Linked DNA regions of Homo sapiens: region 1 is linked to region 2. Evidence: fine-mapped expression QTL. Tissue or cell type: whole blood. Region 2 holds a variant in brackets; the other region holds the start of a gene. All regions are shown on one strand. Distances are between the middles of the regions.

Evidence for each region. PIP is the estimated chance that this variant, and not a neighbour inherited with it, causes the effect.
Region 1: it holds the start of CEP85L, and the variant in region 2 is fine-mapped to the expression of CEP85L in whole blood (TOPMed, PIP above 0.99).

The regions. Positions count from the first base shown.
Region 1 is chr6:118,650,057-118,652,556 of GRCh38, forward strand. CEP85L (centrosomal protein 85L) reads right to left here and starts at 1,535. Exons shown (of 13, transcript NM_001042475.3): 1 at 1,141-1,535. The coding sequence starts at 1,213. RefSeq lists silencers at 919-1,228, 1,429-1,888.
Region 2 is chr6:118,718,911-118,721,569 of GRCh38, forward strand. No RefSeq gene overlaps it. Among named protein-coding and RNA genes, the nearest start is that of CEP85L, 69 kb to the left of the region's middle. RefSeq lists an enhancer at 1,084-1,133. The variant A/G (reference allele first, on the strand shown) is at 1,105.

The DNA of each region.
Region 1 (2,500 bases), 69 kb before region 2:
AATGCTGCTTCTGCTTTTTTGTTTTGTAAATAACAGCTTTGGAAATGTATGCAAAAATATCTCTAAGTTACACAAGTCGAGCTCAAACACTTTGTGGAGCAAGGTTACTTAACAGGAGTCCCAGAAACAGCTAAAATTGTAGGGAAAATTTTGCGTATGTATATATGGCATTGTTTTTTCTGCGCAGAATGTCCATATAACTCAGTTTCTCAAAAGGCCTCAAAACTCAAGATTAAAAGTGCCTGGAAAGACCATCATCTTTAGAGAACATATCACAGGCAACCCAAGACTTATTTTTTATCCCAAGTTAGGGGAGGATTTATCCTAATTTTGTGGCTCCTACACAACTTCTGAGCGACGCAAGCATGAAATGGCTGTCCGATACAAACAGACCCCTTCAGATACGGAATGCAGCAAACCCCTAATTTTCCTTGAAGGGGCCACGGAAAGCCAAACGGATTCGTAACCCGGTTGCTCAATGGTCCATTGGCTACTGCAGGACGCGCCCTCCTCTTACGCCGCAGGGGCTGCGGGGCGGCGACCAGGTTCCTCCGAGGGGCTGAAGTTCCCTTGGGGGTGGCTGAGAGCGGCCGCATCTCTGGCAGCATCCTCCCTCCCGAAAACGCGCCCTAAAAGTAGCGGCTGCGGGCGTGGGCACAGCCAACCCCAGCCTGCGCCTACCAGAAGTCGGGAGGGCGCGGAACTGCGGCCCCTCCGAGACGCGCCCGGGCCGCCGCCGCAGCACTGTCGCAGCGACCTTCCCGCCCGGGTCCCCGCGAGCAAACGGGCAAGCCCCGTTATCACGCAGGTCACACACCCCACGAGTAAAAGGAAAAAACCGGGCAGACAATAAAGCCCAACCCGCGGGGGCCCAAGCGAGCTGGAAGTTGGGGGCGCTGGGGCTGCAGCCCAAGGAGGAGCGGCGGGGACGACGGGATGCGGGGCTGATGCGCCTGGGACGCGGCAAGCCATATGTCAGCCCGGGTGCTGACAGCGGGGAGGACACTGGGCACGCGGCGGCGTCGGGGAGGCGGCCGGGGTAAGACAGGCCTGAGGCGGGAGGGGAGCGGCGGCGAGGTCCCGAGGCGCCGCGGTCGGCCGTGACCCCCACCCCAGCCGGGGCGCTGTCCCGTTCCTTACCGGCAGGGAAGCTGCGGGCTCCGCCGGGGCTATCCCGGCCGCTGGCCTCCGGAGCCAGGAAGCGCCCCCACATCGCGGGCGAGAGGGCCGGGTGGGCCAGGGACGCCCGACTCCTCACGTCCGTCCTCCTGCTTCTTCGGCGGCGGAAACTTGCGCGGAGCGTGGGCCTCGGCGACACGGGCAGGAGGAAAGGCGGGATGGCTGGTTAACGGCTGCTCAGCTACGGGCGGGGAGCGCAGGGGCCAGATTCGCCGCACTGCCGGCGCCTGCCATGGCCAAGCCGGCTGGGCTGAGGCCCGCGCCGGGGAAGCGGCGACTCGGCGGTGACGGCTGCTAGATCCCCGGCTGAGCCCAGGCTCAAAGGCTCCAGGCGAAGTTGCAGCTGCGGGTTCTCTCCGCCCCCTCCGCCGGCAGAGCCAGAGCCGGGGCTGGGGCCGCGAGGGGGCGGGGCCTCGGGCAATGACTTCAGGCGTGCGCGGCGCCGCGCGGGGCGGGGACTGCGGGGGGCGGGGACTGCGGGGGGCGGGTGAGCTACCCCGACCCCGCTTCGCCTCCTTGGCGGCGACTGGGCTGTCCCGCCCTCCCGCCGCATCCCTCTGTCTCCATCCTCCCGCCCTGCGAGTTGAGTAGAGGGCAGCGACTTGGCCTATTTTGCGATACTCGCCCCTCCCTTGGGTAATCCCTCACGCCCTCCCTCCGGGCACCTCTGTGAAGACACGTGGAAGACCTGCCCCTGGCGTCACAACCGCTCGAGATGAAAAAGCCAAGCCAGGGCGCGGCTGAGGGGGCTTCCAGCCTCCCTTGGAATTAGGATTGGGATTTAAATCCTCATCTGTATTCCTTCGTTTATAGATTACTTTAGGGGCAGAAAAGGGGTGGTTTTCCTTTACTAATTTAATGGGGGCGTGGGGGCAACACAGGCACCAGAATATAGCACCGGGATGTGCACCGGAAAAGGCCCGGGGGTAATTAGTACCCGAGGGGGAGAGGGGCCGTCATTGTAATCGCACAACGTTTCAGATTAGCAAGCAGAAAGTAAAAATGGCACCAAAGTCTGTAAAGGGAGCCCTTTCCTCCTTGCCCCCTACTCCTTCACGTTCTTCCTCTTCTTGGCCAGTTTCCACCCTTCACCTGAACCCTTAGTGCAGGAGGAGACGTCCTAAGGAAGGGCGAAAAGGGACAGCATCGTTTTATTTTTAAATCTTACTTCTCACTGGCAATATGGTGATGCTTCCAACGTTTAGTTACGAACTAGTTCGTATAAAAAATTCTGGGCCAGCACTGTGGTGGGAGGCGGGCTCTGCAGTAGGCCCATCACTCAGAGGTAAGTCGGAACGCAGGTCGCTTAACTAGAGAGGCT
Region 2 (2,659 bases):
AAATGTATCCTACGTACCTCACCTCTACGGAGTGACCGTCCAAACCTTAGAGTAGGGACTTGGCGAGAGGTGGGGGCATAGAAGCCTGTGGCATAAATGGCAAGTACGGTCTCTCTGTGTGATCAGCATGGGTCAGTCTCCTCCAAACATATGCTTTGGAAGTCCCTGTTGTGGTGAAAAGAGCCCTGCATGGAGTTCAGAGGGCATCTTGAGTCACAGTCCTGTCACTTACTGATTCAAAACATGTGATGGCTGTGCCATGATATTTTCTATTCCACGTACTTTTATTTCTTTTTTTTCTTACTGATCCTGGCCATTTCCTGGACTCCTCTGAGACCCAGTTTCTCCCTGTTCATAACAGGATCGTGACACCTGTTCATTCCCTGTGCTCAATTGTTGTTGCAGCTGAGTTCGTGATGAGTTGAGAGTCTGGGTCAAGGACATGGGGTGTTCAGCAGGCATTAAACATGAACCTCCCAGGGGGGCTGAGCATTGTCAGTCCACCTCCCCGCCCATCGCTCAGACCAGGTCTTGTCACATTTGCTTCCTTCAGCTCTGATTTCACAGCTCAGGGTAGCTGGAGGTCACAAGGCCCCTAGGCACCCACAAGCCTCTGATGTCCAGCGTGGTTCATGTGTGCTTTTGCCACAAGTGCCTGCAGCGGCATGAGGCAGCTGGAGGTTTGGCTCAGTGGATGCAAGAAGGAACACGAAAGCAGGGTTGTTTTGGTTTGGGGTTTAGATTTTCTCCCCTTTGTTCTTTCACTCAAGAAAGCATTTGAGTCTGGGCCTATCTTCCTGGCTGATTTCTTGTCAGAGTCTACTATTTTTGTTCTTGTCTCACATGACTAATGTTCTTAATTTCATTTCACTTTAATTTTTTCCTTTTGAACTCTCATCTCTTCCTCTTCTGATCTGATCTCCTTGCTCCACATTCCCATCCTTTCCCCCTTTTCAGTCCCCTCAAGTCCTTTTGAAAGCTTCCACACAGATAAGCAGATTCATCTTTCTCAATACAGATTAGGGGCAGCTCCTCTGAGGGGGGGAACCCCTCCATGCAAACATCTGCAGTTGCCCTGTGGGCCCCTCTGGCTCAGACTGTCTT[A/G]CTATAAAAATACATCTTATACCATAAGCCAATGCACACGGGTGTAGGTAGAATTGCAACAATATTTAGCCTCAAAACATGTGATGGCTGTGTCACAATATTTTCTATTCCATATACTTTTATTTCTTTTTTCTTTATTCTTTTCCTCCCTCTCTCCCTTCCTTCCCTCCTTCCTTCCTTTTTCCCTCCTTTTCTTCTTTCTTTTCCTCCTCTTCTTCCTTTCTTCTTCTTCCTCTCTCTCTCTCTTTCTCTCTCCCTCACCCACTAAACTCATCTCAGGACTCATTAGAGTCATTAGTGGATTGTGACTTGTACTTTGAAAACCACTAATTTAGGAGCACTGTCTACCTGCCCTGGGGAAAAGGCCCTTTGCTTTGTTTTCTGAAACACATATTATCTGTATATAATGAGAATCCACTCCCCACCAAACAGATGAAATTTAAATACTCCTGGGGTGAACTGAGAGGTAAGGACAAAATGACAACAGGTCTCCAAATTGTGGAGTCATCTTGGGGTTCAGGAAGTTGGGATGATTGCTCTGATGCTTTGAGCTTCCCTAGTTCCTCTTATTATGATGCCCCGGTATTTTCTAGCTACCTCTCTCTTCTCCCCGAATCCCTGCAAAGAAAGTTCTAAGGAAGGAACTTGTGGTAAGCAGAATAATGGCCCCCAAAGATGTCCATGCCATAGTCCCCAAAACCTGTGAATATGTTTGAGATGTTAATGGCAAGAAGAAATTAAGGCCGAAGATAGAATTAGCATTGCTAGTCAGCTGATCATGTAATGGCAAGAATATCCTGGTTTATCTAGTTAGGACCAATGTAATCACAAGGGTCCTTATAAGTGAAGGAGGGAGGCAGAACAGTCAAGGTCAGAGTGATGTGATATGAAACTCCAGCAGCCATTGCTGACTTTGAAGATGGAAGGGGCCACAAACCAAAGAACGTGGGCAGCCTTTAGAACCTGGAAAAAGTGAGAAAATGGATTCTCCCCTACGGCCTCCAGAATGGACAGCAAGACTGCCATTACCTTGACTTTAGCCCAGTGAGACTCATGTCAGACTCCTGACCTCCATAAATGCAATACATTTGCATTTTTTGTTTTGTGTTGTTTTGTTTTGTTTTGTTTTGTTTTTGAGGGAGTCTCGCCTTGTCGCCCAGGCTGGAATGCAGTGGTGCAATCTCGGCTCACTGCAACCTCTGCTCCCGGGTTCAAGTGATTCTTGTGCCTCAGCCTCCCGAGGAGCTGGGACTGACTACAGGTGCATGCCACCACACCTGGCTAATTTTTGTATTTTTGGTAGAGATGGGGTTTCATCATGTTGGCCAGGCTGGTCTTGAGCTACTGACTTCAAGTGATCTGCCCTCCTCAGCCTCCCAAAGTACTGGGATTACTGGCATGAGCCACCGCACCTCACATTTGTGTTGTTTTAAGCCACCAAGTTTGTGGCAGTATGTTTCAGCAACAATAGGAAACTAACACAGATGTGTTATTGGTCAATTACAACGCACTATGAATTAGAGCATTTCTGAGTCCAGGGGCATTTTTCTTTAAA